Regions from separate parts of the Homo sapiens genome. Here region 1 is linked to region 2. Evidence: fine-mapped expression QTL. A gene starts in region 2. The other region holds a variant in brackets. All regions are shown on one strand. Distances are from middle to middle.

Region 1 (5,387 bases), 89 kb after region 2:
TGAAAAACCTTCAAACACAGTAACTCCTGGAAATGATGATAAAAAGACATGCCTTCTTTTCTTCTGTATTTAGAACAATTCTATAATTAAAAGAAACAAACATATCCATATTTCTAAAAACAAGGGATATTTTTAAGAGGGGGGAGGGGAAGAAAAGCTATATCTTCTCTTTGGAAATTTCCAGGGCATTAGTAATGGGAGTTTACTGCATTTTGAAATTTGACAATACTCTTAGCTGCTCATTCTCCAAAGCAGAATCTACACACTGCCAATTAATTTTCCATTGTAGTGTTAGTTCATGCAGAAGCCAGCCTCTCTTACTTAGTCCCTAGTGTGATTACGGCATATGCCTATGAGATTCCTGTTTGTTTGTTCATTTGCTTTTGTGGAAGGAATTCCGGTATTAGGCTCATTTGATTGGACCAAATAAAGCTGATGACCTGTGAACCTGTGATCCAGTGAGGAGGATACATAGAGTCTATGGTTTCATAACAGAGCGTTGCAATCAACCCTTCCTGGGAAGGTCTACCAGTGACTTTGGCTTACCAAAAGAGCTACTAGCCTTTTAAATTTTGGTTCCTCCATTTGTAGTTATAGTTCAAGCAGACACATAATAAAAAGTCTGGGTATGAAGGAGGGGGATTAGTGGTTAATAAGGAGACTTGGACTCAGACACATCTGCTTTCTTACCCTATCTTAGAGCCGTGTGACTTTAGGTGAGTCACTGAGACTCTCTAAACCTACTCCTCAAATCTGCAAACCAGAGATTATAATTGTACTTACTTCTCATGCAGCTAACAAGATAATGGCTAGCATATAATAAGAACTCAATAAAATACATAAACATACACACATAAGCTAATAAGGTGGTGGTCTGATATTGTGTATCCTACAGTGGTTAGCTTCTATTGGAAGTGACTTCCCCTCCATCTGTAAATATGATACAGTGCTCATCCTAAGTCTTTTTCAGAGACCTACACTGGAGCTAGCACATAATTTACTGATAAAGGGGAAAAGAGGAAGATTCATATAGAGAATAGACTGAGAGCCTCTTAGGCATCTAACTGCTCCCATCCCTTGACTGCTTTGCATCTGGAAAATTTGCAGTGTTTAATATGCTCCTGTTAAAAGGTAATGCCTTTGGAAAATATAGCACTTAAAGCTATGATCAGTTATGACTTCAAGATTTTCAGATAAGTGGTTAGGGGGTCATGACAGAGTAGTGCCTGCAGCGGGGAGCCAGTCCTTCACAGGCCAGTTGGAAGACATCAAAGGTTATTCCTATTTCATAATTGTTAGTGGATTTTAGCTATGAACATATGTATAGCATTTCCTGAAGTTTCCTGAGAATCATCTTTAATCATCATCACTACTGTTTCCCAAGCACCCTTATATAATCTTCTTGGTTTATATAAACTAATGGCTTCTACTCTGTACAAGGTTGCGATTTGAAAAGGCACTGGGAAGAAAATACCAGTTGCAAAGGGTGGTGGAGGCTGAAGTCATGTCAACAAGATCATAAGGCTGAAACCAGATATTTGTAATGCTGCTTGTAACTTTCTCGAGAGTAGGATATATCTTATATCTCTTCTGATTTATATAGCACTTATTACAACTCCTTGTACATAGGCTGAAAATGTTAGTTTAAATAAATTGACATTACAAAGTAGGATTTTTTTAAATTTTAAATCAGAGTTGTGAGGCTGTGAGGAAAACATGTTCTTTATTTGTCTGAGGGAAAGAATTAGAGATTGGGAGCAATTTCTGTAACCAAACTTTCCTCAATATTATATTTACTTTATTACATTCCATTTTCTTAGTCATTTATGGGCCATAAATTCAGCCTCTCTGTTGTTTATAACTTAAGTTTTTATTTTTTAATTTTTGTTTAGGGCACTGGTTGTCACTTCTGGCTGCTCATTACATTTATCTAGGGAGCTTTAAAACCTATAGATGCCCAGCCCCAGCCGTGGAGGCTCTGCTGGAGCCTGGAAATCAGACTCAGGTGTTCACAGCCCTTCCCATGGGGAGAAGGATGGGGAGTTAGGGAGAGAAAGGGGTAAAGAGTGTGTCTAGCATTGCAAATGTATAGGGTGAGTCTGCCTAGTATCATCTGGTATCACCTATCCCATCCCACTCAGCCATGGGTCTCCTTGCCATCCTTGAGCACATGAAGGATGTACCCTCATTAATGCCTTGGTGTTGGCTGTTTCCTCCAGCTGAAATCCACTTTCTTCAGC[T/C]ATTTTTGTGGCTGGCTGCTTCTTTTCATTTAGATCTTAATTCAAATATCATTTCCTCAGGAATCCCTTCTCTATATAAAGTATAACCCTTCCCCTTTCACTTTCTATCCTGTTGCTTTGTTGTGTTTACTTTGTGCCATTTCCTACTATTGGAAATTATCTCATTTATGCAATTCTTTACATATTTGTTGTTATACTCACCTACTAACAGGACACCGTCATATTTCCAGAACCTAGAACAATGCCTGATGCCCCAAAAGCTTGAAGTATACATTTTTGAAATAAAAAAACCCCGGGGTTTTATGTTTATAACAGGAAAGACAAATATGTGACTAGACATTGCTAATTGACCTACGGTACCCTTTCTCCCAGATTCTGTAACATAGTTCTCAGCACCATTCTCAGTTATCCATCATTAGCCTTCAGATGGAAACTTCTTTTATACCCCTGGTTTAAAAAGTAATTTTTTGTACCTAGCTTATTTCATTTAGGAAATTAAGGCTCAAATAGGTTTAGCAAATTTTATTTTTTTATTCTTTCTTTTAAATCATTCACTTCACAATACTTATTGAGAATTTAGAATACAAGAAGCAATATTTTGTACAAGGTTTTGCCCAACATGTCTCCAGAACTTTGATTTTGTGCTATGCTTGGTCATAATATATTTTTCAATATATATTTGCAGAATTTAATTCAATAGAGAGCTTAAAACTGATTTAAATTACTTTATGTAAGGCATATATGACAAATGTAGGTGGGATGATTATAATGTAGATTATAGGATCGACTTAGAGGCTGAAGGGATTTCAGATTATCTATTCCAGGAACCTCATTTTGCAGATGAGGAAGTTAAAAACCGAGATATAATAGTTTGTTTTTCATGCATGCTTGAAGGATGAATAAAGGACTGATGGACTGAATCCTGCTGAACGTTATGTGAGTTTTTTTGTGGCACAGCAGATCTCTGAACCCAGTTCTTGGTCCAGGGCTCTTTCATCCCCACCTGTGATCCCCAAATGCATGCAATTAGAAACATCTGGGGATATTGCAAAACATGCTGGGAATGGTGTTCTGGGACTCATATTTTTATAATCCCCTTCCTCCTTAGGTAATTCTGCTGCACAGCCAAATTTGGGACCACTATGTACGTGATATTATTAGTATATGAATGTGCCTCAGTTTTAACTGAAGAGATAAGGAGGTTCCATATAATGTATGGAGAATACCATTTGTAGGACTTTCAAAGAAACCCTCTACTTTTTGCTTAGCTACACAGTACCAGTCTGAGCTAAATCTCAATAAACTAAAGACTTGCTTCTGACATTTAATTAAATCCAACAGTTATTGACTATGAGAGATAAAAAATGAATAAGATATACTTCTTAATATAGATTATTTAAATCCTGCTTAAATAGAGGACAATAAATTACAGAACCTTGATATTCCCCTGAATTTTAGATACTCATGATTTGTTGGGCTGTCAGCAATGTGTCTTATACCTTGCAAGGTGCACAGGGATGTTTGATTTGTTCTGATTTACTCTCACATGAAAGTATCAGCTTTTTCACTTAAACTGTCATGGAATTATCTACCAGTACTCAAAGTACTCTTTCATTATTTACATTCTCTGGATGATTGGAAGAAGAAATGGAAAACAAGCATCATATATTTTCTCTCCCATATTTTCAGATTGAGCAGTGATATATTTCATTATATAAAATATAATAATTATAAAACAGATTTAATTTTTCTATGGAGGTAGCAAGCTGTTTCCATAGCAAGCTCTGCTTTTCCTGACCAGCTTTCCCTTTCTGTACCTTATATTTTATCCAAAATTATCTGTCAGCAGTAAAATATTCTATCCATAGACAATTCTCTATATGCTCTTCACAGAATGTTCAGCCTAACATAGTTTATGTCAGGGGGCATAGACATTCATTTCTCACATTTATGGAGAGGAGAAAGGGAAAGAAACATTTTAGACGGTTGTTAGACTCCAACAGCCATTGGGAGATCCAATGTACACTGGGTGCAATATATATTTTTATATTTGTTTTTTAATGCTCTACCAGAAATGTTTTATAGAAAGAATAGGACAAAGATTCAACTGACAGAACAACATATGTGTGTATAATTTTTCCCCAGAGGAAAAAACTAGGGATTTTAAGGAGAGGGAAGTCTGTGTCATTGTTAGTGTCAGCGACAGTTGTCTCTCTTATCTGCTATGGCAGGGAAGATGCAGGGGTGGGTGTGGAGGGCAAGTGATGGGTGCGGGTAATAATTGGGGGTGGAGGGGAGCTGAGTGCTGGATGAGTGAGGAGATAGGAATGGGGCGATTTGCCTTGGGTTCACGCTAAGCTTCCAATAAATGTAGGAATCTGCATTTCTTGTTCATACTGTGTTACGGGCAATTAATACAGCACCTGGCACATATGAGCTATTTTTTTAAAACATGTTGAATAAATGTATACTTGAAAATGTATGTTGAATATCTGCTTACAGAATTATGCCATACTTTTTGGGAAAAATTAAGGTTAATAAATAGGATGAGTGGTATTTAGATGTGTGTATTGCTTCTAGCATAATATTATGGATACAACTGGCACATAAGGAAGTTCTGTGGCCCAACCTCTAGCATGGATGTTGAGTTAAGTCTTACATATTTTAATATTTTAAATACATTTGAAATAACTAACCACACCTTTTTTTAATTTTTAGGAAAGCGTGCTCTTATTTTCATTTTCCATTAAACAATTTTTCCTGAGAATGAGAAATTTCATCCAAAATCAAAGTTATTCCAAAATCATGACTTTCAATTCCTAACATGTCGTGTTAACTTTATTATTCTTTCTTTTATAGATATCAACTCTTGGATTGAAATTTTAAATGCAAATTCAATGAGTCTTTCACTGAGTGGTATGTGTTTGTGTTTGTGGGAACAGAATTGAAGGGCTGGGGAGGTGTGCTTCTTTTCTGACAGCACGTAGGCAGCATGTAGAGCAATAAATAATTTCCCTCGGCAGCTGTAAAGTTGGGTAATATGTGGTTTTACATTTATAAATCAAATGGAATATAAATGATTGCCAACTAAAATGAAAACATAACTGTAATGAAATAACTTGAGGAAATGGAAGCTGGATTGCCAGT
Region 2 (5,387 bases):
ATGACTGCCCAGCTTGGTTTGGTCCTGTGACCAGTCCTAGCCAATGGAATGTGAGAAGTAATATGTGCCATGTTTCCCACAATAATTTTGTAACAGACATATTACCAAACCAGAAAACATTACTTCAACTATTTATTCTGTTCTCTGGTAAAACCTATCCAGTATCTTTTAAATTATGTACACCATTATAATTTGCACATTCCTTCAGATGTATTCTTTCAGCCTGATTCTTCCAATATTAGTGCCTCAAGGTACTTATCAGTGATAATGATAAACTGCAGAAAAGTCAACACCAGAATTTCTAGCAATGCTCTCCCTTTGTCCAGTTCTTAACTGAGTAAACATTCATGATCAAAAATCAACCAACCAAACAAAAAGCTCCTGGTTTTGACTGAGTCTTTACTTAAGGAAATCTCTATTCAGGGTTAACTTCTTGAACCAAAGAAAATAGTATTTGGTCAAATATACTTATGACTAAAATGCAATTTGGCAACTAGTAAGTCAAGTACTGGTGAAATTCTGTATCTAACCACATCCCATATTCTTCTGGTTTTATTCATACCTTATCAGTCACAACTACTTCTTCCTCCTCCTTAATTAGCAGTGTTTGGGTAAAACGTAATTATGTGAAGTTTTCTATATGGACCGCACTTTTACTGTCTTGTATTTAAATATAAAAGCCTTTTGCTTGAATTGCTTTTATGCCTGTCTCCATCCCAATCTTCCCTGGAAAGGCTTCCATGACTAGAGAAGCTGAGTTAAGGGCCTCTCTCTCCTCGATCCCAACTGCTAGAGTGTTCACTTTGAAAGATGGGCAGGAGTAGTATCCTATTCAGTGTTGTACTCCCAATGCCAGGTCAGTGCTAGGAAGTAAAGACATACAAAAAGGGTGAAACAAAGATCTCTAATTCCGTGGATGTATTCCCTCCTTTTGAGGACCTAACGATACTTTACTCTTATTTCTTTTTGGAGAAGTCTCTCTTATCCACATTCTAGAAGACTATAGGTAATATGAAACTAGTATTTCTGAGAAAAATGAAATACTAGAACGAGGCAGGGAAAACTGCCTGAACTGTATCTTTAACAGAAAACAAGGATGGAATGCTAGAAAAATAAACATAAAATGTTACATTACTAAGACAATCCAACAAATGAATAACACAACTTAAATTCACATTTTTTCCCTCCAAAATATTATTTCCTCTTTAAAAGATACACACAAATCTTGAATTACAACAAATCCATGGTAGATCTGGGTTTAGGCTATTAAGGGCAAAAAGGATTACATACTTGCCATATTCCTGTCCAAAATGTTGTGTTATGGAAATGAAGCCCACTCATTACTAAGTACTAGGAAGCTCTTAATGACCCAGGGTTAACATAATCTTTTCCTTTTCTGTAGAAATAATTCCAGCAAGGTGAGAGTATTTTCTTCTACTGAATGCTAAAATATGCTAGTTACATAAACTTTAAAAATGCCCTCATAAGAAGCTTTTTCACCAGCAAATTGTTTCCCCTAAATCTTACTGGCCTAAACTCTTAATAATAAAAGTTTTGTTTTAATAATTCTGTAAGTCCAGCTCCTTTCGGGTGGACAAAGAGGATATACAAGAGCATCTCTCAAAAGTAAACTATTTTATTCTCAATTGCCAGCTTACTGGTTAACTGGTCCTTTAAAGCTCTAGAAAGTGCAGGTTATCGAGCACAGACATAATCATTACAATACTGCTCAGGACTGCTCTGTCTCCAGCATGTTTACTAATCATAAACTAAATAGTCTTTTTTGTGACAGTAGAGATATCATGGATCGTTTCTATTCAAGAGTTTCATCATTCCTACTAATGCCCACTGGAATAATTTAAAGTAACAGTAATAACTTTATCTTATTTTGTTCAGAAAAAGCCCCAAGTTCCTTAAGTTCCTTAAGTACAAGTTGGAAGGCATCAAACATCTCGGATTTCTACCTCGTGCTAATGTCAAACTACTTGGAAAAAGGGCACAAGCTTCCTGGTCATTATTTAACTGATCATTATACAGTGACTATTAATCATCAAATAACACCCTATCTTCGTTCATAAACATAGCAACTACCAGTCAAACTGTACAATGTCAAAGAGTGGTTCTGAATTCGAATGTAATTAATCTGGCTCCAAAGGTAACGGAGAACTTTGAGTGGGACTGAGAAACCTCTGCCTCCCCTTTTACTAATACAATGCCGCGCACAAAGAAGGGAGGCGGCGACCCAGTTCCAGCCTCCGGGGGTAGATCTGCGGCGCACGGTACCCACTCAGTTATCTTCCGAAAGACCCACAAGCGGCTCCCGGAGTCTGAGCGGGGCTGTCAGCGCCGGATCGCTCCCAGCAGGCCGAGCAAACAAGCGACCGCGAGGCCAAGGAGCGTGACGACGGACTCCCGGATCCTAGTGTGTTGGACGCTCGAGACAAACACCGCAGGCCCCAGTGCATGAGGAGAAGCACAGCCTCCTTTCCCACGACCCCACTTTATCCCCGGAGGGACGTGGTGGTCCGAAGTTCGCTAGTCCGGGATCGGGAAGAGGTGGGGAAGACTCGCGCAGCGGCTCCCTCTCAGCCCTTGAGCTTCCCGGGCTCCAGGACAACCAGCGTCCTCCCTCCCTGGTCCCGGAGGCCAAAGACCACCTCCCTCCCTCCCTCCCGACCTCTGACCCCTGACCTTCCATCACCCAAGCGCCTACCCAAGCTGGTTCTCCGAGCCTCTTGAGTCTGTTTGCACCAGGCCTGCGCTCCTCTACAGACCCAGCAGATCACGGGCACGCATTCGCCACCCACCGAACATGGGCTTGAGGTGGGCACGAGCGCTTTTTGCCGGAACGTGTAGGGGTCCCCCGGGAGACCCAGAAACCACAGCGCCTAGCTGCCGGGCGCGCGCTGTAGCGTGGGGTCAAGGCGAACGCGCTCGTCAGAGCACCCCGCCCCCTTTCTCCTGCGCTGGCTTCATGAGTCTCTTCTGCGCAAGTTCACACTGTTAAAAACTTGCTGAGGATACAGTGGAGTCTCGCGATAGCTCTGCCCCACGCCATTAGAGAACACAGGATGGCCGAATGCCCGAAGTAGGGGGCGGGGCTCCCCTTGAAGCGAAGGGCGTGTGTGATTTGTATCTCTAATAAAAAGGCAGGGGCCAGGAGCGGTGGCTCACGCCTGTAATCCCACCACTTTGGGAGGCCGAGGCGGGCGGATTTCCTGAGGTCAGGAGTTGGAGAACAGCCTGGCCAAGATAGCGAAACCCCGTCTCTACTAAAAATACAAAAATTAGCCGGGCGTTGTGGTGCGCGCCTGTAGTACCCGCCTGTAGTCCCAGCTGCTCGGGAGGCTGAAGCAGGAGAATGCTTGAACCTGCGAGGCAGAGATTGAGTAAGCCGACATCTCCCCACTGGGTGATAGAATGAGACTCCGTCTCACAAAAGAAAAGCAGAAAAGAATTCTGCAAAAGCATCTATTTTACTGCTATAAAGCAGCCACTAAGTAGGTACGAATAAAGCTTCTCCCCCTCAAAAACAGACTTTAAAGGGAAATGTGAATAAATATTCAAAGATGAGAGAAACTATTAAATACATGTGTTGCGCTGAAGCTGGCCTTCCACTATTGGTCTTTTTTCCTCTCACCTCTTCCTCATAGAAGTGACCTTAATGTTGGAATAACTCTGAGAGGCTTCAGGGTCAGGAGCCTGTGAAATAACCCTCAGGAAACACTGGGGACTCAGTACTTAGTTAGTGAGTACCTAATAGCAGCTTTTCTGCTGTGGAGGCCTTTTGGGTTGTGTGACCACAGAAGCACTTGAACTAAGTTCTTGTCCAAGTGAATATCGGTTGTAGTTGTGTTAGACAGTCCAGGGTAGTCCATATTTTACTTAGTATATTCCTTTATCACAGATACGAAGCTGTTTCCATAAGCAAATCCCCGCCTCCTTTTATTTTGCTTCCCTTTATTGTACTTTGCAGATAATATGTTTTCCTATAAATTGAAGTTTTTTGGCAACCTTACTCAAGCAAGTCTGTCAGCATCATTTTTCAAGCAGCATGTGTTCACTTGCTGTTCATCTGTTATGGTGATCTATGATTAGTTATCTTTGATGTTACTATTGTAGTTTTTTGGGAGCATTACAAACTCTGCTCATAGAAGATGCTAAACTTAATAAATGTTGTGTGTGTTCTGAAAGCTTCACTATTGGCGCCTGTCTCTCTTCCTCTCTTCAGGCCTCCCTATTCTTTGAGACACAACAATATTGAAATTAGGCCAATTAATAACCCTACAATGGACTATTAAGTGTTCAAGTAAAAGGAAGGGTGGCACATCTCTCACTTTAAATCGAAAACCGAAGGAATTTAGTGAGGAAGCCATGTCAAAAGCTGAGATAAGCCAAAAGCTAGGCCTCTTGTACCAAAGTTAGCTAAGTTGTGAATGCAAAGGAAAAGTTCTAGAAGGGAATTAAAAGTGCTACTCCAATGAAAACACAAATGATAAGAAAACGAAACAGCCTCATGCTGATATGGAAAAAGTTTTAGTGGCCTGAATAAAAGATAAAACCAGCCTCAGCATTCCCTTAAGCCAAAGCCTAATCCAGAGCAAGGCCCTAACTTTTTTCAGTTCTGTGAAGGCTGAGAGAGGTGATGAAGCTGTAGCAGAAAAATGTGAAGCAAGCAGAGGTTGGTTCATGAGATTTAAGAAAAGAAGCCATCTCCATAACATCAAAGTACAAGGTGAAGGAGCAAGTGCTGATGTAGAAGCTGTGGCAAGTTTTTCAGAAGATCTAGCTAAAATAATTGAAGCAGGTGGCCACACAAAACAACAGATTTTCCATGTAGATAAGACAGCTTTCTATAGAAAGAAAAGGCCATCTAGGACTTTCATAGCTTCTAAGCTTCACAGGACAGGTTGACTCTCTTGTTAGGGGCTAATGCAGCTAATGACTTGAATTTGAGGCCAATACTCATTTATCATTCTGAAACTCCTAGGGCCCTAAAGAGTTATGCTAAATCTATTCTGTCTGTACTCTATAAATGGAACAATGAAGTGTGGATGACAGCACATCTACTTAACAGCATAGATGTACAGGATATTTTAAGCCCACTGTTCAGACCTACTGCTCAGAAAAAAAAAAGATTCCTTTCAAAATATTACTGCTCATTTATAATGCACCTGGTCACCCAAGAGCTCTGATGGAGATGTACAAGGAGATTAATGTTGTTTTCATGCCTGTTAACACAAAACCCATTCTGCAGCCCATGGATCAAGAGTAATTTTAACTTTGACATCTTATTATTTAAGAAGTAATAAGGCTATGGATGACATAGATAGGAATTCTTCTGATAGATCTAGACAAAGTAAATTAAAAACTTCTGGAAAACATCC

What was found. PIP is the estimated chance that this variant, and not a neighbour inherited with it, causes the effect. A credible set is the group of variants that fine-mapping cannot tell apart.
Region 1: its variant is the best candidate, but not a certain one, in a credible set for the expression of SHPRH in whole blood (INTERVAL, PIP 0.58).

What each region holds. Positions count from the first base shown.
Region 1 is chr6:146,050,439-146,055,825 of GRCh38, forward strand. All of the region lies in intron 1 of GRM1 (glutamate metabotropic receptor 1), which reads left to right. Among named protein-coding and RNA genes, the nearest start is that of GRM1, 24 kb to the left of the region's middle. The variant T/C (reference allele first, on the strand shown) is at 2,241.
Region 2 is chr6:145,961,444-145,966,830 of GRCh38, forward strand. SHPRH (SNF2 histone linker PHD RING helicase) reads right to left here and starts at 2,915. Exons shown (of 30, transcript NM_001042683.3): 1 at 2,288-2,915. RefSeq lists enhancers at 2,432-2,561, 2,672-2,891, 2,803-3,790, 3,342-3,391.